2 linked regions of the Homo sapiens genome follow. The protein of the gene in region 1 purifies or fractionates together with the protein of each later gene. This does not show direct contact. Each region holds a gene or a part of one and is shown in the gene's direction. Other genes may lie near its edges. The genes, in order: MAP4K1 and NUDC.

Evidence for each region.
Region 2: the proteins of MAP4K1 (region 1) and NUDC purify together in Homo sapiens (affinity purification with mass spectrometry; 3 studies listed by BioGRID and IntAct, with this or other methods). This does not show direct contact.

The regions. Positions count from the first base shown.
Region 1 is NC_000019.10:38,590,731-38,606,818, reverse strand, and holds part of MAP4K1 (mitogen-activated protein kinase kinase kinase kinase 1), read left to right. Parts: intron 1-603; coding exon 604-646; intron 647-1,088; coding exon 1,089-1,251; intron 1,252-1,327; coding exon 1,328-1,410; intron 1,411-5,124; exon of another isoform or gene 5,125-5,293; coding exon 5,294-5,378; exon of another isoform or gene 5,379-5,406; intron 5,407-6,665; coding exon 6,666-6,742; intron 6,743-6,833; coding exon 6,834-6,894; intron 6,895-9,224; coding exon 9,225-9,333; intron 9,334-9,423; exon of another isoform or gene 9,424-9,434; coding exon 9,435-9,493; exon of another isoform or gene 9,494-9,566; intron 9,567-9,681; coding exon 9,682-9,785; intron 9,786-10,332; coding exon 10,333-10,507; intron 10,508-10,817; coding exon 10,818-10,880; intron 10,881-11,089; coding exon 11,090-11,179; intron 11,180-11,263; coding exon 11,264-11,334; intron 11,335-13,481; coding exon 13,482-13,537; intron 13,538-16,088. UniProt on the Homo sapiens protein: Serine/threonine-protein kinase, which plays a role in the response to environmental stress. Appears to act upstream of the JUN N-terminal pathway.
Region 2 is NC_000001.11:26,919,988-26,936,075, forward strand, and holds the start of NUDC (nuclear migration protein nudC), read left to right. Parts: upstream 1-1,755; 5' UTR 1,756-1,861; coding exon 1,862-1,942; intron 1,943-4,101; coding exon 4,102-4,179; intron 4,180-16,088. UniProt on the Homo sapiens protein: Plays a role in neurogenesis and neuronal migration. Necessary for correct formation of mitotic spindles and chromosome separation during mitosis. Necessary for cytokinesis and cell proliferation.

The DNA.
Region 1 (16,088 bases):
TGATGTCACCTGTGTTACTAGGTGGTGTAAAGGTGCAAAGCCGTGGTGCACTGTCAGCACTCCACCTCCAAGAGTTGCTGTTACTGTTATTAGTCTTTTTTTTGGAAACAGGCTAATCATTTTTTTGTAGGATGGGGTCTTGCCATGTTGTCCAGGCTGGTCTCAAACTCATGATTTGTTTTGGCACCAAGGCTAAGTGCAGGAGTGCAATGATGGCTTACTGCAGCCTCAACCTCCCAGGCTCAAGCAATCCTCCCACCTCAGCCTCCTGAGTAGCTGCGGTCACAGGCGCACCTGCCACGCCTGGCTAATTTTTAATTTTTTTCTGGAGACAAGGTCTTGCTATGCTGCCCAGGCTAGTCTCGAATTCCTGGGCTCAAGCCATCCTGCCCTGGCCTCCCAAAGCACTGCGATTACAGGCATGAGCCACTATGTCCAGCCTGGCTATTAATCCTTTAATCCTCTGCTCCAGGCAGAACCAGTCATCCCTTAATCCTCCTCACCTCAGACCCCAGTCCCGGGCCTCCAGCCCAGAACCATGCCATCTTCCCCGAGTCCTTGTTCCCCAGCCCCCCAGCTATTTAACCCATCTTTGTGTTTCAGCCCCACCCCTGCAGAGGACACACCTCCTCCACTTCCCCCCAAGGTAAGGCCCTGGGCCAGAGCTGGGAGGCTGGGGCCTCAGGGCCACTGGGGGCCAGGAGGCCAGGTCCTTAGATGCTGGGATACTGGGCTCTCCAGGGCAGGGAATTGGGGAGACCAGGATGATGGCTACATTGGGATCTGGAAGTGGCATCCCTCAACCTCAGGGTCGGATTCAAAATATTTAGCCTCTTAGACACTGGTCAGTAGCTGGTCCTAGGAAGCCCCTGCTATATATCCAGCATTAACCCATTAGTTTCTGAAGTGTGTTGATGTCCAGGCTGGGGATGTCAGGGGAAGGCTGGAGGGGGCACAAGATGTTGTCGGGGGGGTGGGTCAGAGCCACAGCTGTTAGTTCTGGTGGAGGCAGGGACTTGAGTTGCAAAAGGGTGCCCTCTCTGAGATCATCTGATGTATTTCCCCACGCTCCATTCCCGTCTCCAAAGCCCAAGTTCCGTTCTCCATCAGACGAGGGTCCTGGGAGCATGGGGGATGATGGGCAGCTGAGCCCGGGGGTGCTGGTCCGGTGTGCCAGTGGGCCCCCACCAAACAGCCCCCGTCCTGGGCCTCCCCCATCCACCAGCAGCCCCCACCTCACCGCCCATTCAGGTAATGGGACAGGCTAGGGTGGAGGGCGGGAGGGTTGGGGGTTCTTGGGGGCTGATTTTCTCCTAACCCCTCTCAGAACCCTCACTCTGGAACCCACCCTCCCGGGAGCTTGACAAGCCCCCACTTCTGCCCCCCAAGAAGGAAAAGATGAAGAGAAAGGTGAGGTTCAGCTCTGCTGAGGACTTACACCTCTGGACGGGGCTGGGGATGCCTGGTGGGGTGGGGAGGGGGTGGCAGGACTGACAGTAACAACAGGTGACATTTGTTGAGCGCTTCTCTGTGCCCTACACTTATCTCCTATCATTACATGGCATAAAGCTTCACAGAGTGAAGAAGATATCACAGAGATGTTATCCCCCATTTCACAAATGGGGAAATTGAAGCACAGAGAGGGTAAGTGGCTTACCCAAGGTCATATAAATACCTTTGAGGAGGCAGGCTGAGGCAGGATTGTTGTTTCTGCTTTTTTTTTTTTTTTTTTAAAGACGGAGTTTTGCTTGTTGCCCAGGCTAGAGTACAGTGGCGCGATCTTAGCTCACTACAACCTCCGCCTCCCTAGTTCAAGTGATTCTCCTGCCTCAGCCTCCGGAGTAGCTGAGATTACAGGCAATGCAGCACCATGCCCGGCTAATTTTGTATTTTTAGTAGAGGTGGGGTTTCACCATGTTGGTTAGGCTCGTCTTGAACTCCTGACCTCAGGTGATCCACCTGCCTCGGCCTCCCAAAGTGCTGGGATTACAGGCATGAGCCACCGCGTCTGGCATGCTTTTTTTTTTTTGAGACAGAGTCTCACTGTGTCACCCAGGCTGGAGTGCAGTGGCGCGATCTCGGCTCACTGCAAGCTCCGCCTCCCAGGTTCACACCATTCTCCTGCCTCAGCCTCCCGAGTAGCTGGGACTACAGGTGCCCGCCACCAGGCCCGGCTAATTTTTTGTATTTTTAGTAGAGACGGGGTTTCACCGTGTTAGCCAGGATGGTCTCGATCTCCTGACCTTGTGATCTGCCCGCCTCGGCCTCCCAAAGTGCTGGGATTACAGTCATGAGCCACCGCGCCCAGCTACTAAAAATTTAAAAAATTAGCTGGGCGTGGTGGCACACACCTATGGTCCCAGCTACTTGGGAAGCTGAGGTGGGAGGATTGCTTGAGTCCAGAAGTTAGAGTCTTTTGACAAGATCCATCAAAACCTCCATGAGTCACTACCACATATGCAGTTGCCCAAAGAGCCAAGATCTCAAGAAATTTTACCTCTCATAAATGGAGATGTACAAAAAGAACATCTCTTTATTCAGGAAGTTTCAGTGTTTTTACGTACATGCATAATGCCTACACACGTAGTCAGTGTTGTGATAATGCACCTTTGTGGCATCAAATTTGCCAACAAATGCATAAAATGAATTAGAACTCTCTAAAGTCTTTTTTTTTTTTTTTTTTTTTTTTTGAGATAGTATCTCGCTCTGTCGCCCAGGCTGCTGGAGTGCAGTGGCGCGATCATGGCTCACTGCAGCCTTGACCTCGGAGACTCAAGCAATCCATGCACCTCACCCTCCCTAGTAGCGCTTGGCTAATTTTTTTTTTTTTTTTCTGAGATGGAGTCTCACTCTGTCGCCCAGGCTGGAGTGCAGTGGTGCTATCTTGGCTCACTGCAACCTCTGCCTCCCCAGTCTAAGTGATCCTCCTGCCTCAGCCTCCTAAGTAGCCATGACTACAGGCGCCCACCACCACGCCCAGCTAATTTTTGTATTTTTAGTAGAGACGGAGTTTTGCCATGTTGGCCAGGCTGGTCTCAAACTCCTGACCTCAAGTTATCTGCCAGCCTCGGCCTCCCAAAGTGCTGGCATTACAGGCGTGAGCCACCGCGCCCGGCCCAGCTTGGCTAATTTTTAAAAAAATGTTTTATAGAGGCAGGGTCTCACTATGTTGCCCAAGCTGGTCCTGAACTCCTGGGCTTAAGTGATCCTCCCACCTCGGCCTCCCAAACTGGTGGGATTACAGCCGTGCCTGGTTGGCTACCGGCTAAAAGTATGTATAATTTATACCTCCAGCACTGGAAATGATTCAAAGATGAAATGCATAGCATAATTAATCATACATATATACATATACATATATACACACACATATACATGTATATGTGTGTATATATGTATACGTGTATATATATGTATATGCATATATATGTACATGTGTATATATGTATATGTGTGTATATATGTATATGTGTATATATGTATATGCGTATATATGTACATGTGTATATATGTATACATGTATGTGTGTGTGTATATGTATGTGTATATATGTATATGCGTATATATGTACATGTGTATATATATGTGTATATGTATATGTGTATATATGTATGTGTATATATGTATATGCGTATATATGTACATGTGTATATATGTATACATGTATATGTGTGTATATATGTATATGCGTATATATGTACATGTGTATATATGTACATGTGTATATATGTACATGTGTATATATGTATATGTGTATATGTATATGCGTATATATGTACATGTGTATATATGTATACATGTATATGTGTGTATATATGTATATGTATATATGTATATGCGTATATATGTGCATGTGTATATGTGTGTATATATGTATGTGTATATATGTATATGCGTATATGTGTACATGTGTGTATATATGTACATGTGTATATAAGTATATATGTACATGTGTATATATGTATATGTGTATATATGTATATGCGTATATATGTACATGTGTATATATGTATATATGTATGTGTGTATATATGTATATGTGTATATATGTATATGCGTATATATGTACATGTGTATATATGTATACATGTATATGTGTGTATATATGTATACATGTATATGTGTGTATATATGTATATGCGTATATATGTACATGTGTATATATGTATATATGTATAGGTGTGTATATATATGTATATGTGTATATATATGTATATGCGTATATATGTACATGTGTATATATATGTATATATGTATATGTGTGTATATATATGTATATGTGTATATATGTATATGCGTATATATGTACACGTGTATATATGTATATATGTATATGTGTGTATATATGTATATGTGTGTATATATGTATGTGTGTGTGTATATATATGTGTGTGTGTGTGTGTGTGTCTATATATATATGTATATGTGTATATATATATATGCTGGCCAGGCACAGTGGCTCATGCCTGTAATCCCAGCACTTTGGGAGACCAAGGCAGACGCATCACCTGAGGTCAGGAGTTCGAGACCAGCCTGGCCAACATGGCGAAACCCTGTCTCTACTAAAATACAAAAATTAGCCAGGCGTGGTGTTGTGTGCCAGTAATCCCAGCTATTCAGGAGGCTGAGGCAGAAGAATTGCTTGAGCCCAGGAGGTGGAGGTTGCAGTGAGCTGAGATTGCATCACTGCACTCCAGCCTGGGCAACAGAGTGAGACTCCATCTCCAAAAACAAAACTGACAGCTGGGAGTGGTGCCTCACGCCTGTAATCTCAGCACTTTGGGAGGCTGAGGCAGGTGAATCACATGAGGCCAAGAGTTCAAGACCAGCCTGGGCAACATGGCAAAACTCCATCTCTACTAAAAATACAAAAATTAGCTGGGTGTGGTGGCACACGCCTTTGGTCCCAGCTACTCAGAAGGCTTAGGCATGAGAATCAGTTGAACTTGGGAAGCAGAGGTTGTAGTGAGCTGAGATCATGTCATTGCATTCCAGCCTGGGCAACCGAGTGAGACTCTGTCTTAAAAAAAACAAATGCTGATGATTTAGGATAGTGGAGGAAAAACTAAAAAAAGAAATATATAACAACAACAAAAAAAAACAAAAACAAACTGAAAAGAAAACTCAATGTATGAAAAAGTGTATTACAGGGATAGATTATGGGAAATTGCACCAAGGTAAGAGGCAGGATTTGAACCTTGGCACTCTCGCTCCAAAGTCGTAACCACTGCCCCTTCCTGTTCCCTGCTCTCTTTGCCGGATCTGCTGCCTGGCCCCGCGGCGACCTGCCCAGGGATGTGCCCTTCTCGTAAAGTTGTTCAATGGCTGCCCCCTCCGGATCCACAGCACGGCCGCCTGGACACATCCCTCCACCAAGGGTGGGCATTCTGGAGGGTCAAGGAGATCCTGTAGGGAATGGGAGAGCAAAAGTAGGGGTGGGGAGAAGCCTAAGGAAGGCACAAAGGCAGGGACGGGGAGGAGCTTAATGGAGTTGGGGTGTGGCCAGGCTGAAACAGGGGCGGAGCTTGTCCTTACACTCAGGATTTGGTGATCAAAGATGCATAGAGGGCAGCCAGGTGTGGTGGCTCACACCTGTAATCCCAGCACTTTGGGAGGCTGAGGCGGGTGAATCATTTGAGGTCAGGAGTTCAAGACCAGCCTGGCCAACATGGTGAAACCCCGTCTCTACTAAAAATACAAAAGAAGCTAGGTAGGCCGGGCATGGTGGCTCACGCCTGTAATCCCAGCACTTTGGGAGGCGGAGGCGGGCGGATCATTTGAGGTCAGGAGTTTGAGACCAGCCTGGCCAACGTGGTAAAACCTCGTCTCTACTAAAAACACAAAAATTAGCCAGGCGTGGTAGCACGTGCCTATAATCCCAGCTACTCAGGAGGCTGAGGCAGGATAATTGCTTGAATCCAGGGGGCGGAAGTTGCAGTGAGCTGAGATCATGCCACTGCACTCCAGCCTGGGCAACAGAGCAAGACTCAGTCTCAAAAAAAAAAAAAAAAAAAAAAAATGGGTAGAGGGATGAGTTGGAGAGTGAAAGTAGGAATATTGGAATTCAGGGGCCAGGAGTGTCAGAATATAACAAAAAGGTTAGAGTTTGGAGCACGAGAAAGATGGACAGCTGGAGGTTAATGATAGGGAGACTGGGAGCAGCATTTTGGGGTGAGGAATTTTAGAGATTAGGATGCAGCCAGAAAGGGACAGAATCTAGAGATCAAAGAGATGAAGACAAGGTCAGTGTTAAAGGAACAGGTCACACTGGACAGAAAAAGTCCTGTTTGGGGGTGTCTGAGTTTGAAGGTCAATGTTAGGATTGGCATTAGGGTATCAGAACTGGGGAGAAAGAGGGGAGGAAATCAGAGGACTATTTTGGGGGACAGGTCTAAGGTTGGGGTCAGTTTGGTTCAGAAGACAGTTGGGCAGAGAAGAAAGAACCACCAGAATATGGGTAGTCAAAAGGAGGGAGAGTGAGACTGGCTTGCGGGACCGTCCGCTCTGGCTTTGTTTGGGGAAACAGAGGCTGGGAGTATTGGTTTGGAGAAAGAATAGAGGGTCAGAGCTGGGGACAGAGTGTCAGTGTTTGAGGTCAGACAGGTGGGGATCTGGGAGGTCCCTGAGGATGAAGTCGGTCCCAGCGTCCTTGTCTGTGCCTCCAGACCAGCACCTGCTCCTGGGGGCAGAGGAAGGCATCTTCATCCTGAACCGGAATGACCAGGAGGCCACGCTGGAAATGGTGAGGAACCATACCGGGCCAGGGCAAGGGCAAGGGCCGGAGTCGGGGGTTGCTGGGGTGTCACCAGAGCCATCTCTCCCATTCCCTGCAGCTCTTTCCTAGCCGGACTACGTGGGTGTACTCCATCAACAACGTTCTCATGTCTCTCTCAGGTCTGGCTGTGGGTAGCAGGTGGGATGGGGTCGGAAGTTAAGGGGTCCAAGGGTTCGGGGGCTGGGAAGTAGACGGGCACAGCTGAAAAAAAACTTAGACTGCTTGGTCACAAAGTCCTAGGTTCAAATCCCAGACACTTTTTGACTGTGCTCCCCAAGCCTCAATTTCTCCATTTGTAAAATGGGGTTCACAATAGTCCTCACCTCTCAAGTCAATTTTGAGGTAGTTTCTACAATAAATTAGTCTTTTTTTTTCTTTTTTTGAGACAGAGTCTCCCTCTGTCACTCAGGCTGGAGCGCAGTGGTACAATCTCAGCTCACGGCAACCTCTGCCTCCCAGGTTCAAGTGATTCTCATGCCTCAGCCTCCTGAGTAGCTGGAATTACAGGTGTGCACCACCACACCTGGCTAAATTTTGTATTTTTAGTAGAGACAGAGTTTTACCCTGTTGGCCAGGCTGGTCTCAAACTCCTGACCTCAGGTGATCCAACTGCCTTGGCCTCCCAAAATGCTGGGATTACAGGCATGAGCCACCACACCTGGCCTTAGATTAGCCTTTTTTTTTTTTTTTTTTTTTGAGACCGAGTCTCACTCAGTTGCCCAGGCTGGAGTGCAGGGGCGTGATCTTGGCTAACTGCAACCTCTACTTCCTGGGTTCAAGCAATTCTCGTGCCTCAGCCTCCCGAGTAGCTGGTATTACAGATGTGAGCCATCATGACTGGCTTTTTTTTTTTTTACTTTTTTTATTTTTTATTTTTAGTAGAGATGGGGTTTTACCATGTTGGCCAGGCTGGTCGCAAACTCCTGACCTCAGGTGATCCACCCGCCTTGGCCTCCCAAAGTGCTGGGATTACAGGTGTGGGCCACCGCACCTGGCCTAAATTAGTCCTTTTTTTTTTTTTTTTTTTTTTTGAGATAGACTCTCACTCTGTTGCCCAGACTGGAGTGCAGTGGCGCAGTCTCGGCTCACTGCAACCTCCGTTTCCCAGGTTCAAGCGATTCTCCTGCCTCACCCTCCCAAGTAGCTGGGATTACAGGCACCTGCCACCACACGCGGCTAATTTTTTGTGTTTTTAGTAGAGACGGGGTTTCGCCATGTTGGCCAGGCTGGTCTCGAACTCCTGACCTGGTGATCCACTCGTCTCAGCCCCCCAAAGTGCTGGGATTACAGGTGTAAGCCACCGTGCCCAGCCCTAAGTTAGTCTTTAAATAGCTTTCATGTTCAGATGACAATCAGAACTTATTCCATACTTTACTAAGATAGAGTGAGCAAGTTATAGATTTCAAAATCTGGACGGGGTGCAGTGGCTCATGCCTGTGATCCCAGCACTTTGAGAGGCCAAGGCAGTAGTACTGCTTGAGCCCAGGAGTTCTAGATCAGCCTGGGCAACATAGTGAGACCTCGTCTCTACTAAAAATTAAAAAAAAATTAGCTGGGTGTGGTGGCACACACCTATGGTTCCAGCTACTCGGGAGGCTGAGGTGGGAGGATCACTTGAGCCCAGAAGTTAGAGGCTGCAGTGAGTCATGATCACACCACTGCACTCCAGCCTGGAAGACAGAATGAGACCCTGTCTATATATAACAATAAATAGGCCGGGTGCGGTGGTTCACACCTGTAATCCCAACACTTTGGGAGGCCGAGGCGGGTAGATCACCTGAGGTCAGTAGTTCGAGACCAGACTGGCCAACATGGTAAAACCCCGTCTCTACTAAAAATACAAAAATTATCCAGGCATGGTGGCGCATACCTCTACTCCCAGCTACTTGGGAGGCTGAGGCATGAGAATTGCTTGAACCTGGGAGGCAGAGGCTGCAGTGAGCCAAGATTATACCACTGCACTCCAGCCTGGGTGACAGAGCGAGACTGTCTAAAATAATAATAATAATAATAAATAAATGAAATAATTTCTAGTTTTGGGGGAAACACCAAGCCAAATGGGATTCATGAGTTAGTGAAAGCCACATCTGTGATGACAAACTAGAAGATTTTCTAGATGTGTTTCTTCTAAAACTTTGTAAGATGTGTAACTTCATCTGACTGGTTATGTGTCCAGAGTTTCTGATACGGCTACAAATACCACGAGGGTAGGGAACATATTTTTTATGCTCATCACTGTTCACCAGAGCCAAGCACAGCAGGCCTGGCCTACAATGGACGTTCAATCTATGTGGAGTGAGAAATGAATGAATGAATGACAAGTACTTGAGACTTGCAGGCTTGGGAGTTTCAGACAAAGGGATGGGGCTGAGGGAAGGGATGGAGGAAAGGAAGTGGTATATGGGATCCTATAACTTCCTGCTTCCCCCTACATACACACACCCTGCAGGAAAGACCCCCCACCTGTATTCTCATAGCATCCTTGGCCTGCTGGAACGGAAAGAGACCAGAGCAGGAAACCCCATCGCTCACATTAGCCCCCACCGCCTACTGGCAAGGTACCAGCTCCCAATGAATGGCACCACACAGCCTTATAATTCCTCCCATGCCCCTCTGCCTCCTGCTGTCCTACCCCCCTTCACACCTACCTATTCTCCAGGAAGAACATGGTTTCCACCAAGATCCAGGACACCAAAGGCTGCCGGGCGTGCTGTGTGGGTGAGAGAGAGCTTCACGGGTGTGCAGAGAGTGGGCGGGGCCAGGCCAGAGGAGGGGCTTGAACTGCATCCACCTGAGAAGGTTACAGAGTTAAGGCAATGTGTCCAGAACCCAGAAGATGGGTGGTAGTGTGGGTGGCGAGGAGGATAGAGGGCATTGATCTTGACTCATCCTTGCCCATGCCACAGCGGAGGGTGCGAGCTCTGGGGGCCCGTTCCTGTGCGGTGCATTGGAGACGTCCGTTGTCCTGCTTCAGTGGTACCAGCCCATGAACAAATTCCTGCTTGTCCGGGTAAGGGGCTTGGGAGGGTGCTGGGAACTCTGAGGAGTGGGTGGCTAAGGCCTTGCACCCTTTGCGCTTCTATCAAGAGCTCCATGAAGCCCCACCTCCGTCGAGGCCCCGCCCCAATCTCCCGAGGCCCCGCCCACCTGCGGTCTGCGCTTGGAGCCTCGTCCTTCTGAAGCCATCCTGATCCTTAAGCGCCGCCCCTCACACCTGGGCCTAATTATTCCTCAGGCTCAATGCTGCCACTCCCTGGGTGTCCTAGTAGAGCCCATTTAGAGCCTGTCTCTTTGAGTGTCTAAGCAGGTTTTGCTATCTTTGGGGCCCTGCCCGTCTGCCGCCAAGGTGGCATGCCCCCACATGGAAGCCACACCCACTCGGAGGTCACGACCCCCGTTCCCGCGGAGGCACCAGGCCTTATCCCCTGACATTTCTAGACGGCATCCCCCAAGACTTAGGGCCCTGGTTCGGAAGTCCCAGGCCAGCTACAAGCCACGCCCCCTGAGGCCCCGTCCTGAACCACCCCCTAGCCCGCCCCTCCCTGTGCGGCCCGCAGCAGGTGCTGTTCCCACTGCCGACGCCTCTGTCCGTGTTCGCGCTGCTGACCGGGCCAGGCTCTGAGCTGCCCGCTGTGTGCATCGGCGTGAGCCCCGGGCGGCCGGGGAAGTCGGTGCTCTTCCACACGGTGCGCTTTGGCGCGCTCTCTTGCTGGCTGGGCGAGATGAGCACCGGTGAGTGGGGCGGAGTCTTGCTGAGGGCGGGGCTTATCAGATCCGGAGGGGCGGAGCTGGAGGCGGGGCTTCGCTTAGCCTGAGGCACTACGGGACTGAGAAAGGGCTGGAAGGGCGGAGAAGGGAGAATGGCAGGTTTTAGTTAACTGGGGAGATTGATGATGGGGTGGGACCGGGATGGTGGGCGGGGTTTAGCCCACTTGCTTGTGAACTGAGGCGGTGGCTAAAGCACAGGTACTGGCCTTCTGGGGGTGGTGTGGGGAAAGGGGAATGGGGTGGGGTCAATCCTTAACCCACTCCCCCCAAACAGAGCACAGGGGACCCGTGCAGGTGACCCAGGTAGAGGAAGATATGGTGATGGTGTTGATGGATGGTGAGAACCCTCCTTCCTCCCCTTCCTCCCCACCCCTCCAGCTGCAGTCCCTAGATCTCTGCCTCCGAACTTGTGCTTCTCAGAACCCCCTGAGCCCCTCTGGGCCTTGCCCCTGTCCTACATAGCTTTCACACTGAATTTATGGATTGGTCCCTTAGTAACCCTCTAAGCCTTGCTCACAGTTCTTAAAACCGTCTATCTCCTTCCAGGCTCTGTGAAGCTGGTGACCCCGGAGGGGTCCCCAGTCCGGGGACTTCGCACACCTGAGATCCCCATGACCGAAGCGGTGGAGGCCGTGGGTCTGTGCAGGGACGGGAGAGCCCAGGATCAGGGGTGGAAACTCAAGTGATCCCCAAGGGTAACGGGCATTGCTTTCTCCCCAGCTATGGTTGGAGGTCAGCTTCAGGCCTTCTGGAAGCATGGAGTGCAGGTGTGGGCTCTAGGCTCGGATCAGGTAAGCCCCTCCATCCAAACTCCACATCACTGCCCCCCAGCCTCCATCATGACATTCATCAGATGGGCTCCGAGAACTCCTGAGTCAGAGTGTGAAGTCCTGGAGGGGAAACATCTTCCAAATTTCAGTTCAGATAGATCCCCTTCTTTGCCCCAGGATTTATTTTTTATTTTATTTTTATTTATTTATTTATTTAAGACGGAGTTTCACTCTTGTTGCCCAGGCTGGAGTGCAGTGGTGCGATCCCGGCTCACTGCAACCTCCACCTCCCGGGTTCACGCGATTCTCCTGCCTCGGCCTCCCAAGTAGCTGGGATTACAGGCATGCGCCACCACAGCTGGCTAATTTTTGTATTTTCAGTAGAGACGGGGTTTCACCATGTTCATCAGGCTGGATGGTCTTGAACTCTTGACCTGGGGTGATTCACCCGCCTTGGCCTCCCAAAGTGCTGGGATTACAGCTGTCAGCCACCACACCCGGCCTATTTTATAGATAGATAGATAGATAGATAGATAGATAGATAGATAAAATTTATTTATTTTTGGAGATGGATTCTTGCTCTGTCACCCAGGCTGGAGTGTAGTGGCGCGATCTCGGCTCACTGCAGCCTCTGCCTCCCAGGTTCAAAGAATTCTCCTGCCTCAGCCTCCTGAGTAGCTGAGACTACAGGTGCATGCCGCCATGCTTAGCTAATTTTTTTGTATTTTTAGTAGAGACAGGGTTTCACCATGTTGCCCAGGCTAGTCTCAAACTCCTGAGCTCAGCCAATCTGCCTTCCTTGGCCTCACAAAGTGCTAGGATTACAGGTGTGAGCCACCACTCCTGGCCATTTTTATATATTTTTTGAGACAGAGTCTCGCTCTGTCACCCAGGGCAGAGTGCAGTGGCATGATCCGAGCTCACTGCAACCTCTGCCTCCTGGGTCCAAGTGATTCTCCTGCCTCAGCCTCCCGAGTAGCTGGGATTACAGGTACACTCCATCATGCCCAGGTAATTTTTGTATTTTTAGTAGAGACGGGGTTTTGTCATGTTGGCCAGACTGGTCTCGAACTCCTGACCTCAAGTGATCTGCCCGCCTCAGCCTCCGAAAGTGCTGGGAGTACAGGCGTGAGCTACTTCACCCGGCCTGTTTGTTTTGGAGATAGGGTCTCTCTCTCTTGTCCAGGCTGAAGTGCAGTGGTGCAACCATAGCTAGCTGTAGCCTTGACTTTCTGGGCTCAAGCAATCCTCCCTCCTCAGCCTCTCAAGTGGCTTGGATTACAGGTGTGAGCCACTGCACCTGGCTGCTCTTGGATTTCTTGAGTCCCAATCTCATCCTGGGCCACTACTGTGACCTTGGGCTGGCAACGTTGCTTCTCTTTAAGCTTCTGTTCCCCAACTGTAAAATGGGGACCACTATAGAGATATATGGATAGTTAAGACAAGACTGTCTGGGTTGGAATTCAGCTGAGTGGCCTTGGGCAAATGACTTAACCTTCCTGTGCCTCACTGTCCTCATTTGGAAAATGGTGTTTATCTCACAGAATACTGTGTCAGACTTTGCCCTTACACTTTAGTATTTTTATTTATTTATTTTTGCTCACTCAGTTCCTTCCCTCTTTTTGAAATGGAGTCTCGCTCTGTTCCCCAGACTGGAGTGTTAGTGGCACAATCTTGGCTCATTGCAACCTCTGCCACCCAGGTTCAAGCGATTCTCGTGCCTCACCCTCACAAGTAGCTGGGACTACAGGCATGCGCCACCACAGCTGGCTAATTTTTGTATTTTCAGTAGAAATACAAAAATTATCTCAGCTGGAGATCTCGGCTCCAGTGGCACGCCCAGTGGCGCAATCTCAGCTCAATGCAATTTCTGCCTCCCGGGTTCAAGTGATTCTTCTGCCTCAGATCCTGAGTAGCTGGGACTATAGGCGCGCACCACCATGCCTAGCTAATTTTTGTATTTTTAGTAGAGACGAGGTTTTGCCATGTTGGCCAGGCTGGTCTCGAACTCCTGACCTCAGGTGATCCACCCACTTCGGCCTCCCAAAGTGCTGGGATTACAGGCGTGAGCCACCGTGCCCAGCTCCTTGCTGTCTTTAAGGGAGCCATGTTCGTAGTGACAGTGGAGGTATCTTCCAGGCACTGAGACACACACTTTTTTTCCCTAGCTGCTACAGGAGCTGAGAGACCCTACCCTCACTTTCCGTCTGCTTGGCTCCCCCAGGTATGTTGTGGGGTGGGGTGCAGAAGGACCTGGGAGGGGGCTTCTGATGTGAAGAGAGCATTCTGAGGTGTCCCCAGCAAGGTATCTCTAGCCTGGACAGTGTCTCACCTGGTCACCCTGCTTCCATCCCTGCTCCCTAGAGTCTGTTCTCTGCACTGCAGCCACGGGGGCGTTCTCTCTTTTTGTTTTGTTTCTCACTGTACTCAAAGGCTGGAGTGCAATGGCACGACCACGGCTCACTGCAGCCTTGACCTCCCAGGCTCAAGTGATCCACCCACCTCAGCTTCCTGAGTATCTGGAACTACCGGCATGTGCCACCATGCCCAGCAATTCTTTTATTTATTTATTTATTTATTTATTTATTGAGATGGAGTTTTGCTTTTGTTGCCCAGGCTGGAGTGCAATGGTGTGATCTTGGTTCACTGCAACCTCTGCCTCCCAGGTTCAAGCGATTCTCTTGCCTCAGCCTCCCAAGTAGCTGGGATTACAGGCATGTGCCACCACACCCGGCTAATACTATATTTTTTAGTAGAGATGGCATTTCACCATGTTGGCCAGGCTGGTCTCGAACTCCTGACCTCGGTGATCCACCTGCCTCGGCCTCCCAAAGTGCTGGGATTATAGGCATGAGCCACTGCACCTGGCCAATCCTTTTATTTTTTAATTTTAATTCTTTTATTTATAAAATTTTTTTAAAATTTATTTTTGACACAGAGTCTCGCTGTGTTGCCCAGGCTGGAGTGCAGTGGCACAATCTCAGCTCACTGCAACCTCTGCCTCCCAGGTTCAAGTGATTCTCATGCTTCAGCCTCCCAAGTAGCTGGGTTTACAGGTGTGTACCACCACATTTGGCTATTTTTTGTATTTTTAGTAGAGACGGGGTTTCGCCTTGTTAGCCAGGCTGGTCTCAAACTACTGACCTCAGGTGATCCAGCTGCCTTGGCCTCCCAAAGTTCTGGGATTACAGGAGTGAGCCACTGCACCTGGCCTTAATTTTATTTCATTTTTGAGACAAGGTCTCATTCTGTTGCGCAGGCTGAAGTGCAGTGTTACACACACAGCTCACTGCAGTCTTGACCTTCTGAGCTCAACTGATCCTCCCACCTCAGCCTCCCAAGTAGCTAGGTCCACAGGCATACACCACCACAACTGGCTAATTTTTAAAATTTTTTTGTAGAGACGGGGTCTTGCCATGTTGCCCTGGCTGTCCTTGAACTGCTGGCCTCAAGCAATCTTCCTACCTTGGCCTCCCAAAATGTTAGGATTACTGGCATGAGCCACCACACCTGGCTGCATTTTTTTTTTTTTTTTGAGACGGATTCTTGCTCTGTTGCCCAGCCTGGAATGCGGTGGCGTGATTTCAGCTCACCACAACCTCCACCCACTGGGTTCACGCGATTCTCCTGCCTCAGCCTCCCGAGTAACTGGGATTACAGGCATGTGCCACTGTGCCCGGCTAATTTTTGTATTTTTAGTAGAGACAGGCTTTCGCCATGTTGTCCAGGCTGCTCTTGAACCCCTGATCTCAGGTGATCTGCCCGCCTCGGCCTCCCAAAGTGCTGGGACTACAGGCATGAGCCACCGTGCCCAGCCCTGGCTGCATTTTTATTTTAGATTTTTATCTTATTAAAAATTTTTAACTATTAAAAATAACTATTTTAACTATTTTGACATAATTTAAAACTCACACTCCCAGAGAAGTTGCAAAAATCCCTTTTATCCAGATTAACCAGATCTTTTTTTTTTTTTTTTTTTGAGATGGAGTCTTGCTGTGTGGCCCAGGCTGGAGTGCAGTGGATCTCCACTCACTGCAACCTCTGCCTCCCGGGTTCAGGCAAGTCTCCTGTCTCAACCTCCTGAGTAGCTGGGACTACAGTTGCACACCACCACGCCCAGCTAATTTTTTTGTTTTTTTAGTAGATGTGGGCTTTCATCATGGTGGTTAGGCTGGTCTCGAACTCTTGACCTCAGGTGATCCACCCACCTCTGCCTCCCAAAGTGCTGGGATTACAGGCGTGAGCCACTGTACCTGGCCAGATGTTAATCTTTTTAACCGCATTTGCCTTATTATTCTTTTTTTTTTCTTTTCTTGAGACAGAGTTTCGCTCTTGTTGCCCAGGCTGGAGTGCAATGGCATAATCTCAGCTCACCACAACCTCCCACTCCTGGGTTCAAGCACTCCTCCTGCCTCAGCCTCCCGAGTAGCTGGGATTACAGGCATGTGCCACCATGCCCGGCCTCTTCTCTTTCTTATGCGCACACACCACACATACAAGTATATGTGTGTGTGTGTGTGTGTGTGTGTGTGTGTGTGTGATTTTTTAATGAATATTTGGGAATGAATTGCAGACGTGATGCCCATTTACCCCTAAAATACTTCAGTGTATGTTTCCTGAATCAAAGCAAGGACATAATGTTACAAACCACAGCACAGCTGTCAAAATCAAGAAAACAACACTGAAACATCACAACCTTCTAATTCATACCCCTACTCAATTTCACCAGTTGGCCAGGTGTGGTGGCTCACGCCTGTCATCCCAGCACTTTGGGA
Region 2 (16,088 bases), on another chromosome or scaffold:
CAACTCCAGGAATCTCTAATCTAAAGGGAGAAGTCTCTAGTCTGAAGTGGGGAACACGCAATTCCAACCAAAAGAGAAACCTAAAGGAAAAAAGGAAAGAAGAAGGCGTCAACTGTGTCAAATGCACCTGAGAAGTTGAGTAAGATAATAGTGGTTCATTGGCTTTGGCAATATGTAGCACTGTAACCATATCAGAGCCTTTAAAAAATAGACTAGAACAGGCCGGGCGCAGTGGCTCATGCCTGTAATCCTAGCGCGTTGCGAGGCCGAGGCAGGTGGATCACTTGAGGTCAGGAGTTTGAAACGAGCCTGGCCAACATGGTGAAAACCCCTCTACTAAAAATACAAAAAAAAATTAGTTAGGCGTAGTGGTGCCTGTAATCCCAGCTACTTGGGAGGCTGAGAATCACTTAAACCTGGGAGGCAGAGGTTGCAGTGAGCTGAGATCGTGTCACTGCACTCCAGCCTGGGCAACAGAGTGAGACTTGGTCTAAAAAAAAAAAGAAGAATAGATAGACTAGAATATACTGTAGAGAGATGGGAGGTGAGGGAGTAGAAAAACAAGCAAACAAGTTTGCTGCAAATGAGAGCTGAAAATTGGAGAGGTAGCAGCAGAAGAAAGTGGGGCCATGGAATAATAATATAAAAACAGGGCTGGGCATGGTGGCTCACACCTGTAATCCCAGCACTTTGAGAGGCTGAGGCAGGAGGAGTGCTTGAGACCAGGGTTTGAGACTTAGCCTGGGCAACACAGACTCCATCTCTACCAAAAAACAAAAAACAAAAAACAAAAAAAAAAAAACAGCAGGGCGTGGTGATGTGAGCCTGTAGTCCCAGCTACTCTGGAGGCTGAAGTGGGGAAGATGGCTTGAGTCCAGGAGTTCAAGGCTGCCGTAAGCCAAGATGGTGCCACTGCACTCCAGCTTGGGTGACAATGCAAGAACCCCATCTCTAAAAACAAACAAAAAGATATTAAAGCGTGTTTGTAAATTGAAGGGAAGAAGAAAGATATTTGTGATGCATAAGCTAAAAAAAGGGATAATTAACAGGGATAGAGTTCCTGAAAAGACTAAGATGATGAGATTCATTGCACAAGTGGAGGGATTAGCTTGGATGGCTGGGTCCTGTCCCCGCATTAACAGAAGTGAAGGTCAATTTCAGCACCTGTCATAATTTCCTGGGCCCAGTGCAAAATGAAAATGTGGGTCTCCTTATTCCAAAATTATTAAGAATTTCAAGACTATAACAGAAGGCCATGAAATCAAGCGTGGAGCCTTTCTAAGCCTGGGTGCTGTGCGACTGCAATTTGTACTCCCATGAAGCTGGCCCTAGTCAAGTACGCAGTGAGGTCGATGAGGAGGAGGCTGTCCTGTGGTAAGTCCCTTCTAGGATTGGAAGAGATGAGTAAGGCTACTTTCAGCTTCACTGCTCTACAAGCTGGGGGGGTCGCTAGCAAGGGAGAGGGGCAAAACTTGTCCCTTTTTAACTTCCAACCCTGCCAGATTTGAGTCCAGGGCTTTCTAGAAGTCTCCACGGCATCGGGTGACCATAGCAACTCATGCCAAACTCTCGGGCCCACGGCTCCGCCTACCGCTTCGTGGACGCGCTTGTTGATTGGCTCCGAATGTCGACCAATGGTCGGCGAAGCGGGTTGCTTGCCGCACGGTCAATGGCCGCAAACCGGGAGGAAGGCGGGAAGAGAGGAGGTGGAGGCGGGCCTGGGCAGCCGCGCGCGTGCGTGTTTCCGGCTCCGCTGCGGAAGGCGGACGACTAGAGTCGTTGGGCCCGGCGCGACCCGCAGGAGCGTAGAGAGCGCGGGACTAGAGTGCAGAGCTCCGGGACGTGGATCGGAGCCGGCGCGATGGGCGGAGAGCAGGAGGAGGAGCGGTTCGACGGCATGTTGCTGGCCATGGCTCAGCAGCACGAGGGCGGCGTGCAGGAGGTAACGGCCCGCGCGGCGTCGGCCCACCCGGCGGCCTTGGCCACGCTCCTTCCGCCCTTCTCTGCCTTCGAGGGCTGAGACCCACCCCAGCGGCTCGCGGGCTTCTGGGATGCCCCTACATTCTCACTGCGCCCAGCTTCCGGCCTGGCCACCCGCCAGCAGGTCTCACCCGGTTCGCATCAGTCCCGGGCCCCCGGCGCCCCTCAGTAGTAGCAAATTATCGCATCCCTGAGCTTAGGATCCCCCTTTAGTTTCACATATGCCCCCACCCCCGTTTCCACTTTGATGGCGGCTTCCAAGGAGCATCCCTTAGTAAGAACCGTCGCAAATATCGTGATTTGGATCCACCAAGGCTTGGGGCGAGCCGTCGAATGTGTGTGGTAGGGGAGCGGGCTGATGTTAGCACGTGGTCTTGTTAGGCCTTGAATGGGGGAATAGGAGGCCTGTGTTCACGATTAGTTTCCACCACCTACCAACTTGGAACCTTTACATCTCTCCAAGCCTGAGTTTCCTTATCTGTGAGACAGCTGCGAATACCGGTTTCCAGAGAGTAGTTAAGAACCGTAAGTTCTCAGTAATAAGGCTTTTTCATTCAACAAGTATTTGTCGTGTGATTGATGTGTGTCCCACACTCGACAATAAGGGCCAACTGTTACAGATTCTGGAGTTGGTTTTTTTGGAACAAACACAAAGTTAACGGTAGAAAAGTCTGTCAGGATCAGAACTCTCATTCTCAGAGCCAGAGAAGTGGCAAGGATTTGCCTAGATCATGCAACATGGTTCTCACCTAGACAGGTCAGTGTGCTTCCCAGAGTCCATGGCTGATTGTGTCTTACTGGAGGTAGGTTTCCATTGAACTTTCTATTCCTATGTAACCTAGGTGTCTGGTGACCAAGGACTTCTAAGCCCTTTGTGGTGGGGAGAGTGTTTCTCATTTGCAAGTGTGAAAAGCCTTCCTGTCTCCATTCCTCTAAACTGTTCGCACAAAACTGGATTTGGGAGCGAGTTCATTTTTGAGCAAATTGAAAAACTGTCTAGAAGCAAGAACGGAAACCATTGAGATATGTTCTAGCATCAGATTTAATCAGATTTAGACCCACTCTTGGGCAAATAAAGGGTTTGTGTGTGCTGACCTTGAGTCACCACTAGATTGTTTCATTCAGCAAGAATTTTACTGATTATGTACCTTTAGCCATATCTGGTGCCCAGCATTGCAGGTGGCAGACAGACTAAGCCATGGTTCATGGTTCCTATTTGTAAGGTGTTTACCCTCTGCCAGTGGGTCTCTTGCTCTGTGCCATACATTGCTAAAGGCCTCACCTCCTTGACCTCATGATCCTCACCAGGTCCCTAGAAATAGGTACTGCATCTTATTCCTGTTGTACAGAGTTAAGAAACTTCTGCAAAGTCAAAAGGTAATATATGTCCATCTGATACTCAAACCGTTGGCTACACTTGTACTCCAGCCAGAATTAATCCATCTTATCCTCCTTTGAAGTGGCTTCATTTGCTCTCCTCCTTCTTGCTTTGACCCGGTAACTTAGCCAGTGTCTTTTTTTTTGTTTAGACAAGAGTCTCTCACCCAGGCTGGAGTGCGGTGGCACGATCTTGGCTCACTGCAACCTCTGCTTCCCGGGTTCAAGTGATTCTCTGCCTCAGCCTCCCAAGTAGCTGGGATTACAGGTGCCCACCACCTGTAATCTAGCTAATTTTTGTGTTTTTAGTAGAGACGGGGTTTCACCATGTTGGCCAGGCTGGTCTTGAACTCCTGACCTCAAGTGACCCGCCCACCTGAGCCTCCTGAAGTACTGGGATTATAGGTGTGAGCCAGTGTCTTGATGGGCTTTTTACTTTCTGGAGAGGAAAGCTGGGCCCAGGCTTTTCATGCCCTGGATGCAGAGGAGTGTTCCATACGCTTAGGCTGCTTCTAGCATCACAAGGAAAGTGAAAGGCGCACACACACACAGGATATGAGAAATCTGCTTCATGGTGGAAGTGACTAAGAGAACCTGCTGGGGAGATAATCTCCTCAGTTGGGAAGCTCAGAGGAAAAATAGTCAAGTCCCAAGTTCCCTCCTAGACAAAACAAGTTGACTTGTGTGCAGTTGAAGGGCTCCCAAATGCAGCTCTACTACTTTAATCTTCTCCCCCTCTTTCAGCTTGTGAACACCTTCTTCAGCTTCCTTCGACGCAAAACAGACTTTTTCATTGGAGGAGAAGAAGGGATGGCAGAGAAGGTAAGTGTTGGAAACCACTGTCCTTTGGGCGGCTCTGTCTCTTCAGAAGAAAAGCTCACCTGGCCTTTCTTTGGCATAATAGTAACTTTCAGCAGAAGCGAAATGCCAAAGGTGAGGAATTGGGGAAGGGAAGGAAGCTGTCATTTCTTCAAGCTCCACTCCTTGCTCAGCCCTCTATCTACCTTATTTCCCATGACTTTTGCAGTTCTACAAGAGGGGCAGGTGTTAACTATCCCCATTGAGGAAATTGGCTCAAGAGAATTTTGCACCTTATCCAAAGTCTTGAGCTGAGCTGTGGGAGAACCAGGGTTGAAACCAGTCTGTTGTAAACCTGTCCTCTGCCCCGACACAGTGCCTCTCAGTTCCTTTTCCAATGAGGAGGTTTTATTTATTTATTTATTTTCTGAGACAGAGTCTTGCTTTGTCACCCAAGCTGAAGCGCAGTGGCGCAATGTCGGCTCACTGCAACTTTCGCCTCCTGGGTTCAAGCAATTCTCCTGCCTCAGCCTCCTGAGTAAGTGGGATTACAGGCGCCCGCCACCACACCTGGCTAATTTTTGTATTTTGATAGAGACGAGGTTTCATCATATTGGCCAGGCTGGTCTCGAACTCCTGACCTCATGATCCACCCGCCTCGGCCTCCCAAAGTGCTGGGATTACAGGTATAAGCCACTGTGCCTGGCCAGGAGGTTTTATTTTTACTTTTATTTATTTTATTTTATTTTATTTTTTGAAATGGAGTCTCATTCTGTTGCGCAGGCTGGAGTGCAGTGGCATAATCTAGGCTCACTGCAACCTCCGCCTCCTGGGTTTAAGTGATTCTTGTGCCTCAGCCTCCCAAGTAGCTGGGATTACAGGCAGGCGCCACCATGCCTGGCTAATTTTTGTATTTTTAGTAGAGATGAGGTTTCACCATGTTGGCCAGGCTGGTCTCGAACCCCTGACCTCAAGTGATCCACCCACCTCGGCCTCCTAAAGCGCTGGGAGTACAGGTGTGAGCCACTGCACCCGGCCTGAGGAGGTTTTAACTAATAACCTAGGAGATGAGACTGGGCAAATATTAGAAACTGATGCTTAGAAATAAATTTAGAAGGCCGGGCGCGGTGGCTCACGCCTGTAATCCCAGCACTTTGGGAGGCCGAGGCTGGCGGATCACGAGGTCAGGAGATCGAGACCATGCTGGCTAACACGGTGAAACCCCGTCTCTACTAAAAACACAAAAAATTAGCCAGGCGAGGTGGCGGGCGCCTGTAGTCCCGGCTACTCTGGAGGCTGAGGCAGGAGAATGGCGTGAACCCCGGGGGGCGGAGCTTGCAGTGAGCCGAGATCGCGCCATTGCACTCCAGCCTGGGCAACAGTGAGACTCCGTCTCAAAAAAAAAAAAAAAAAAAAAAGAAATAAATTTAGAAATACTCAGAGGCATGTCTTCCCAGATGCTGTGACTCAGAGTTTAAGGATTTCTGTTTTGTAGTATTGATTCTGAGACCTTGAACTTCTTTCTGATTCCTTAAAGTTGTAATTATACTTTTGAAAATTGTTATATCATGAGGAATTTTTTTTTTTTTTTTTTTTTGAGACAGAGTTTCACTCTGTTGCCCAGGCTGCAGTGCAATGGCACGATCTCAGCTCACCACAACCTCCGCCTTGCGAGTTCAAGCAATTCTCCTGCCTCAGCCTCCTGAGTAGCTGGGATTACAGGCATGCACCACCACGCCTGGATAATATTTGTATTTTTAGTAGAGATGGGGTTTCACCATGTTGGCCAGGCTGGTCTTGAACTCCCAACCTCAGGTGATCTGCCTGCCTTGGCCTCCCGAAGTGCTGGGATTACAGGTGTGAGCCACCATGCCCAGCCTTTTTTTTTTTTGAGACGGAGTCCCGCTCTTTTTATCCAGGCTGGAGTGCAATGGTGCGATCTTGGCTCACTGCAATGTCTGCCTCTTGGGTTCAAGCAATTATTGTGCTCAGCCTCCTGAGTAGCTGAGATTACAGGCGTGAGCCACCACGCCCGGCGCCATTATCTTTATAATAGACATAAACAAGAGACATAATAAGAAGGAGACGTAGACGTTCTTTGCAAACCGTTTTCTGTGGCTTCAGGATTCTAACAAGTTGGTAAACTCTTTAATGTGTCCTGAATGTCTGAGGCCACTCTGTCATAGACACATTACCTAAGAGTAGGAGTCCCAGGTTCTTGGTCTAGCTTTGTCACCTAGTCGAGTTCCCAGCAATGCTCTGGTTCTTTCCATCTTTACATCTGTAAAATGGGAGAAAGTAGACCCCTTCTAGCTCAGATATTTTTTCTGTATTGTCACTAACACCTCTGGCCTTTCTGTGGGTCAGACTACCTGTAAAACCTCATGCCGCAAACTTACAAAAAAATACAAAAGCACTTTTAGTTTTTATAGCTTTTGGGACTAGTCATTTATTTTTTCTTTCTTTTTTTTTTTGACACGGAGTTTCATGCTTGTTGCCCAGTCTGGAGTGCAATGGCACGATCTCAGCCCACTGCAACTTCTGCCTCCCAGGTTGTAAGTGATTCTCCTGCCTCAGCCTCCTAAGTAGGTGGGATTACAGGCATGCACCACCATGCCTGGCTAATTTTGTATTTTTAGTAGAGACAGGTTTCACCATGTTGGTTAGGCTGTTCTCAAACTCCTGACCTCAGGTGATCCCCCAGCCTCAGCCTCCCAAAGTGCTGGGATTACAGGCGTGAGCCACTGCACCCGGCCTACTTTTTTCAATGAATGTTTATTGAACACTTAACACTTTGGATTATGTTAGGTGCTATATCAAACCTTTTGGGATTGCAGAGGTGAATACAGATTTGTTCTTTGTTTTCATGGATCTCACAGTGTAGCCAAAATAAAAAAAACAAGCAGTGAAAAAGTAGTGGGTGTTGGGGCAGAATCCCTGGGAACATAAAACTAACCTAGGTTGGGGGCTCAGAGAAGACTTTGTGAGGAAGTGACGCTTCAGATATGAAGGATGAATAGCTGTAAGAAGGGAGAGAGATGAACCGTGTGTGTGTGTGTCAGGGTCTTGCTCTGTTGTCCCAGCTGGAGCACAGTGGCTGTAAGAAGGGAGAGAGATGAACCGTGTGTGTGTGTGTGTGTGTGTGTGTGTGTGTGTGTGTGTCAGGGTCTTGCTCTGTTGTCCCAGCTGGAGCACAGTGGCGTGATCCAGCCGCCTTAGCCTCCCAAAGTGCTGGGACTACCTAATTTTTCTTTTTCTTTTTTTTTTTTTTTTGAGACGGAGTCTTGCTCTATGACCTAGGCAGGAGAGCAGTGGAGCGATCTCAGCTCACTGCAATCCCCGCCTCCCAGGTTCAAGCGATTCTTCTGCCTCAGCCTCCTGAGTAGCTGGGATTACAGGCGCCCGCCCCTATGCCTGGCTAATTTTCGTATTTTTAGTAGAGCCGGGGTTTCACCATGTTGGTCAGGTTGGTCTCGAACTCCTGAGCTCGTGATCTGCCCGCTTCGGCCCCTCAAAGTGCTGGGATTACAGTCATGAGCCACTGCGCCCAGCCCCTAATTTTTCTTAACTGTAAGAGGGAGCAGTCCTTACCTTACAAGGATGTTACGAGGATTTAAAAAAAGGCAAAGACCACAATCCACTTCAGAATCCCTTGGGGCCACATGTGTTTTGGTATTTAAAATTATTTGGATTTCAGAAAGGCAATACAGTGCATATAATGTGCATTACATACAATAATCTAATCGCAGGCCAGGAGCTGCATCCTGCAACAAAACACATTAATATTTCTGCAGAAATATATATATCAATATACATACCAAGTAGAAGAAATGAAGACTGTAAATACCTCATGCCACGAACTTACAAAAAAATACAAAAGCACTTTTAGTTTTTATAGCTTTTGGGGCTAGGAATTGTAGACTTGAATACAGCCATAGTGATCTAATCAATATGGTATTGATAGAAGAAGAGAAAAATGGACCAGTGAAGCAGAATAGAGAATCCTGAAATAAAGTCTGGCATTTATGAGGATTTAATGTGTCTATTGTGGTAATTCAGTTCAGTAGGCAAAGCATGATTTAATAAGTCATGCTGCTACATGAATTTTTTTTGGTTAAAAAAACAAAATTTGCCATCTGTCATACTCTATAAAAATACCAATAATAAAAATCCTGTAAGGAAAACTAGGAAACTATAGTCTTATGTGGGGGAGACTTTTCAGCATTAGAAAACTGGAAGCTATAAAAGAAGAGATAGCTGTTTGCCTTTTCAGATGCTGAAACTTTGTAAATGGTAAAAGACATTTAAGTCAATTGAAGAACACCAGATTATGAGAAAATATGCAGTGCAGAGGAAAAATAACATTTAATTGTGAATTTCATATTTAGGAACTCATAAATAAAAATTAGCCAGGCCTTGTGGCACATGCCTTTAGTCCCAACCACTCAGGAGGCTGAGGTAGGAGGATTGCTTGAGCCTGGGAGGTTGAGGCTTCAGTGAGCCGTGATTGTGTCACTACGCTGCAGTCTTGGTGACAGAGCAGGACTTTGTTTCCAAAACAAAACCCACAATGAGATACTATTTCACATCTGTTAGGATGGCATCCGTTAAAAGATAAAACAAAATAACAAGTGTTGACAAAGATAGGGAGAAACTGGAACCCTTGTACACTGTGGTGGGAATGTCAAATGGTGCATCTGCTATGGAAAACGTTATGGCGGTTTCTCAGAAAGTTAAAGAATACAACTATCGTATGTTCTAGCAGTCATGCTTGTGGGTATATACCCAAAATAATCAGGAGGAGGATTTACTTGCACACCCATGTTCACAGCAGCCTTATTCATAACAGCCAAAAGGTGGAAGGAACCAAAGGCTCCATCAGCAGGTGAATGGATAAACAATGTGGTATAGACATACTCTGGGATGTTATTCTGCCTTAAAAGGGAAAGAAATCCTGTCCATTGCTACATGGATGTACCTTGGAGGACATCATGTTATATGAAATAAGCTGGTCACAAAAGGACAAATACAGTTGATCCTTTGTATCCGTGGGCTCTGCATCCATGAGCTTAACCAACCACTGATGGAAAATATTTGGAAAAAAAATTTTTTTTAAATGACAGTACAATAATAAAAAAATATGAATTAAGCCCGACGTGGTGACGCACACCTGTAATCCCAGCTACTTGGGTGGCTGAGATGGGAGGATGGCTTGAGCCCAGGAATTTGAGATCAGCCTGGGCAACATAGCAAGACCCCTTCTGAAAAAACAAAAAAAAAAAACAAATTAAAAAAATATAATCTAATTACTTACATCCGTAGCAGTTACATTGTATTAGGTATTAGGTAATCTAGGGATGATTGAGAGTATGCAGGAGGATGCATGTAGGTTATATGCAAATAAAATGCCATTTTATATAAGGGACTTGAGCATCCTCGGAAATTAGTGTTGGGGAGTGGTCCTGGAACAAATCTTCGTGGGTACGGTGGGACTACCCTATTGCATTCCACTTACATATAATTGAAGGCATATTTTTTGATGAGTAAATATTATGTGACTATCTAAAAGAAAAGTTACTGTTTAAAAACATAACTGTAGGGCCGGGCACAGTGGCTCATACCTGTAATCCCAGCACTTTGGGAAGCTGAGGTGGGTGGATCACCTGAGGTCAGGAGTTAGAGGCCAGCCTGGCCAATATGGTGAAACCCTGTCCCTACTAAAAATACAAAAATTAGCTGGGCATGGTGGTAGGCGCCTGTAATCCCAGCTACTCGGGAGGCTGAGGCAGGAGAATCACTTGAACCCAGGAGGCGGAGGTTTCAGTGAGTCGAGATCGCACCACTGCACTCTACCCTGGGCAACAAGAGTGAAACTCCGTCTCAAAAACAAAAACAACAACAACAGCCACAACAAATGTAACTGTAATGGTATACCTTCTCCAGAAAAGCATACCAATTCTTTAAATATTACCAGAGATCCACATCCAGTCAGGGTTCTGATTTCCCTCAATGCTCTCTTACTATTGTGTTTTGTTTTGTTTTGAGACAGGGTCTCGCTCTGCTGCCCAGCCTGGATGGTGTCCAGTAGTGCGATCATGATTCACTGCAGCCATGACCACTAGGCTCAGGCGGTCCTCTCACCTCAGCCTCCTGAGTAACTGGGAGTATAGGCGTGCCCCACCACACCCAGCTAATTTTTGTATTTTTTGTAGAGTGGGGGTTTCACCATCTTGCCCAAGCAGGTCTTGAATTTCTGATTCTGATCTCAAGCGACCTACCCGCCTTTGCGGCCGCCATTGTACCCAGCTCTTTTGTTTTTTAAAAAAATATGGGCTGAGATGGGGGGATCACTTGAGGCCAGGTGTTCAAGACCAGTCTGGTCCAACATAGAGCATATCTGTACAAAAAATAGAAAATCATAGCCAAGAGTGGTGGCACAAGCCTGTAGTCCCAGCTACTCTGCAGACCAAGGTGGGAGGATCTCTGGAGCCCAGGAGTTTGAGGCTGCAGTGACCCATGATAAACGGCACTGTAATCCATCCTGGGCAACAGAGCTAAACCCTGTCTCAAAAAAAAAAAAAAAAAAATAGTGGGCTGGGCACGGTGGCTCACACCTGTAATCCCAGCACTTTGGAAGGCCGAGGTGGGCAGATCACCTGAGGTCAGGAGTTTGAGACCAGCCTGGCCAAATGGTGAAACCTCGTCTCTACTAAAAATACAAAAATTAGCTGGGCATGGTGGCAGGGGCCTGTAATCCCAGCTACTCGAGAAGCTGAGGTGGGAGAATTGCTTGAACCTGGGAGACAGAGTTTGCAGTGAGCCGAGATCATGCCATTACACTCCAGCCTGGGCCACAGAGCGAGACTCTGTCTCAGAAAAAAAGTGTGGTAAAAAGCACATCATAAAATTTACCTTCTTAACCTTTGTTTTGTTTTTTGTTTGTTTGTTTGTTTGAGACGGAGTCTCGCTCTGTTGCCCAGCCTGGAGTGCAGTGGCGCCATCTTGGCTCACTGCAACCTCTGCCTCCCAGGTTCCAGCAGTTCTCCCACCTCAGCCTCCCGAGTAGCTGGGATTACAGGCGTGTGCCACCACGCCTGGCTAATTTTTGTATTTTTAGTAGAGATGGGGTTTTACCATGTTGGCCAGGCTGATCTCGAACTCCTGACCTCAGGTGATCTGCCTGCCTCAGCCTCCCAAAGTGCTGGGATTACAGGCATGAACCACTGCGCCTGGCCTTTTTTTTTTTTTTTTTTTTTTTGAGGTAGAGTCTCGCTTTTTCGCCCAGGTTGGAGTGCAGTGGCACCATTTCGGCTCACTGCAACCTGTGCCTCCTGGGTTCAAGAGATTTCTCGTACCGGTTGGGCACGGTGGCTCACACCTATAATCCCAGCACTTTGGGAGGCCGAGGTGGGCGGATCATGAGGTCAGGAGATCGAGACTATCCTGGCCAACGCGGTGAAACCCTGTCTCTACTAAAAATACAAAAATTAGCCGGGCATGGTGGCACTCTCCTATAATCCCAGCTACTCGGGAGGCTGAGGGAGGAGAATCGCTTGAACCCAGGAGTCAGAGGTTGCAGTGAGCCAAGATCGCCACTGCACTCCAGCCTGGCGACAGAACGAGACTCCATCTCAAAAAAAAAAAGAGATTTCTCCTGCCTCAGCCTCCCAAGTAGCTGGGACTACAGGTGCCCACCACCACGCCTGGCTAATTTTTGTATTTTTAGTAGAGACAGGGTTTCAGTAACATTGGCCAGGCTGGTCTCAAACTCTTGACCTTGTGATCCGCCCATCTTGGCCTCCTAAAATGTTGGGATTATAGGTGTGAGCCACCACGCTTGGCCCCTTTTTTTTTTTTTAATTTTTATTTAATTTATTTATTTATATTTCTGAGACAGAGTCTCACTCTGTCACCCACTGGAGTGCAGTGGCATGATCACTACTTACCTTGACCTCCCCAAGGCTCAGGTGATCCTCCCACTTTAACCCCTTAAGTAGCTTGGACTCCAGTGCCATCATGCCCAGCTAATTTTTCTTTTTCTTTTTTTTTTTTGAGACAGAGTATCGCTCTGTTGCCCAGGCTAGAGTATAGTGGTGTGACCTTGGCTCACTGCAACCTCTGCCTTCCGGGTTCAAGCGATTCTCCTGCCTCAGCCTCCTGAGTAGCTGGGATTACAGGTGCGCACAACCATGCCGGGCTAATTATTGTATTTTTACAATGTAGAGATGAAGTTTCACCATGTCAGTCAAACCTGTCTTGAACTCCTGACCGCATGATCCTCCTGCCTCGACTTCCCAAAGTGCTGGGATTACAGGTGTGAGCCACTGCGCCCGGCCCCCAGCTAATTTTTCTGTTTTTTTTGTAGAGATGAGGTTTTACCATGTTTCCCAGGCTGGTCTCTAACTCCAGGGCTCAAGTGATCTGCCTGACTCGGCCTCCCAAAGTTCTAGGATAACAGATGTGAGCCACTGTGCTGGCCCATGTTAACCATTTTTAAGTGTACAGTTCAGTAGTGTTAAGTGAACTTACACTAAGAAACATATTTGTAAGACCTCTTTGCATCTTAGGGAACTGAAACCCTGTACCCATTAAGCAACTTCGCTTTGTTCCCTCCCCTACCTCCTGGTAACTGCTGTTCTGTTTTCTGTGTAGGTTGACTACTGTAGATACTTCATATAAATGGAATCATACAATATGTATGTCTTTGTGACTGGCTTATTTCGTTTAATGTAATGTCCACAGATTTATCCACATTGTAGCATGTGACAGGATTTCCATCCCCTTTAAGGCTGAATAATATTCCATTATATGTATATATCACAATTTTTTTTTTTCTTTTTGAGACAAGTCTTGCTCTGTTTCTTGCCCACGCTGGAGTGCAGTGGCACGATCTTGGCTCACTGCAACCTCAGCCTCCCGAGTACCTGGGACTACAGGCACACGCCACCACGCCCGGCTAATTTTTGTATTTTTATTAGAGTCGGGGTTTTACCATATTGGTCAGGCTGGTCTTGAACTCCTGACTTCGTGATCTGCCTGGCTCGGCCTCCCAAAGAGCTGGGATTACAGGCTTGACCACCGCGCCCGGCCACAATTTTTTTTTTTAAATCTATTCTTCTGCTGATGGACTTTTGGGTTGCTTTCACCCCTTGGTTATTGTGCATAGTACTTTTGTGAACATAGGTGCACAAATCTTTTGAGATTCTATTTTCAATTCTTGCAGGTGTTACTCGGCAGTGTAATCTATTGGATCATATGGTAGTTTTTGTTTTTGTTTTTGTTTTTGTTTTAAGACAGTATTACTCTTGTTGCCCAGGCTGGAGTGCAATGATGCAATCTCGGCTCACTGCAACCTCTGCCTCCTGGGTTCAAGCGATTCTCCTGCCTCAGCTTCCTGAGTAGCTGGGATTACAGGCACCTGCCACCACACCTGGCTAATTTTTGTATTTCTATTAGAGACGGGGTTTCACCATGTTGGCCAGGTTGGTCTCAAACTCCTGACCTCAGGTGATCCACCCGCCTCGGCCTCCCAAAGTGCTGGGATTACAGGTTTGAGCCACTGCATCCAGCCAGTTTTTAGTTTTTTTAGGAAATGCCATGATCTTTTCCATAGCAGATGCACCATTTGACACTACCACTAATAGTACATGAGGATTCTGTATTAGTCTGTTCTCATGCTGCTATGAAGGAATACCCCAGACTGGGTAATTCATAAAGAAAAGAGGATTACGGCTGGGCACGGTGGCTCACGCCTGTAATCCCACCACTTTGGGTGGCCAAGGTGGGCAGATCACGAGGTCAGGAGATCAAGAACATCCTGGCCAACATGGTGAAACCCCAGCTCTCCTAAAAATACAAAAATTAGCTGGGTGTGGTGGCGTGTGCCTGTATTCCCAGCCACTTAGGAGGCTGAGGCAAGAGAATCGCTTAAACGTGGGAGGCAGAGGTTGCAGTGAGTCGAGATTGTGCTATGGCACTCCAGCCTGTCGAGAGAGCGAGACTCCGTCTCAAAGAAGAAAAAAAAGAGGTTTAATTGACTCAGAGTTCTGCATGACCGGGGAGGCCTCAGGAAACTTAAAATCATGGAAGAAGGCATTTCTTCACAGATTGGCAGGAGAGAGAATGAGTGCCAGCAGAAGAAATGCCAGACGCTAATAAAACCATCAGATCTTGTGAGAACTCACTCGTATCATGAGAACAGCATGGGGGAAACCATCCTGGTGATTCAGTTACCTCCACCTGGTACTGCCTTTGACATGTGGGAATTACAATTCAAGGTGAGATTTGGGTGGGGAAACAGAGCCAAACGGTATCATTCTGCCCCTGGTACCCCCGCCAAATCTCATGTCTTCACATTTCAAAACACAATCATGCCCTTCCAACAGCCCCACAAAGTCTTAATTCATTTCTGCATTAACCCATAAGTCCCAGTCCAAAGCTCATCTGTGACAAGGTATTACTTCGTTCTCATGCTGCTGTGAAGAAATACCCAAGACTGGGTAATTTATAAAGGACAGAGGTTTTTTTTTTTTTTTGAGATGGAGTCTCGCTCTGTCGCCCGGGCTGGAGTGCAGTGGTGCAATCTGGGCTCACTGCAAGCTCCGCCTCCTGGGTTCACGCCATTCTCCTGCCTCAGCCTCCAGTAGCTGGGACTACAGGCACCCCCCACCATGCCCGGCTAATTTTTTGTGTTTTTAGTAAAGACGGGGTTTCACCGTGTTAGCCAGGATGGTCTCGATCTCCTGGCCTCGTGATCCACTTGCCTTGGCCTCCCAAAGTGCTGGGATTACAGGCGTGAACCACCGCGCCCGGCCAGGACAGGTTTTTTTGTTTTTGTTTTTTGTTTTTTTTTCTTTTGAGACAGAGTCTCGCTCTGTCACCCAGGCTGGAGTGCAGTGGGGCGATCTCAGCTCACTGCAACCTCTGCCTCCTGGGTTCAAGCGATTCTCCTGCCTCAGCCTCCCAAGTAGCTGGGATTACAGGTGCCTGCCACCACGCCTGGCTAATTTTTGTATTTTTAGTAGAGACAGGGTTTCACTGTGTTGGCCAACCTGGTCTCGAACTCCTGACGTCAGGTGTTCCGTGCCCCCTTGGCCTCCCAAAGTGTTGGGATTACAGGCGTGAGCCACCGTGCCCAGCCGTAAACCTCTTTTCTTTATAAATTACCCAGTCTAGGGTATTCCTTCATAGCAGCATGAGAACAGACTAATACAGAACCCTCATGTACTATGGCCAGGAAAGAGGTTTAATTGACTCATAGTTCTGCATGGCTGAGGAAGCCTTAGGAAACTTACAGTCAGGGTGGAAGGTGAAGGGGAAGCAGGTACCACCTTTACAAGGTGGCAGGAAGGAGAAGTGCCAGGCAAAGGCGGAAAAGCCCCTTGTAAAATCATCAGATCTCATGATAACTCACTATCAAGAAAGCAGCATGGGGGTAGCCACCCCCATGATTCAAATTACCCCCCACCAGGTCCTTCCCATGACATGTGGGGATTATGGGAACTACAATTCAAGATGAGATTTGGGTGGGGACACAGAACTAGATGATATCATATATCATCTAGTCAAGACATTTGTCTTTTTTATTGGGTATTTGATTACGATTGTTTGATTCCTAATTCAAGTAAGGTTCACACTTTACACTGGGTGATAGAAACCTGTAAATTAAGAGACCTCAAACAAAGACAAAAACAAAAAATTAAGGGTCAGGCACAGTGGCTCAGGCCTGTAATCACAGCACTTTGGGAGGCTGAGGTGGTAGGATCACTTGAGCCCAGGAGTTGAAGACCAGCCTGGGTAATATAATGAGACTCCATCTCTACAAAAAAAAAATGTTTTGTTTTTTTTTGACTTGGAGTCTCTGGTGCTGAGGCGTGAGTGCAGTGGCATGATCTTGGCTCACTGCAGCCTCCGCCTCCTGAGTTCAAGCAGTT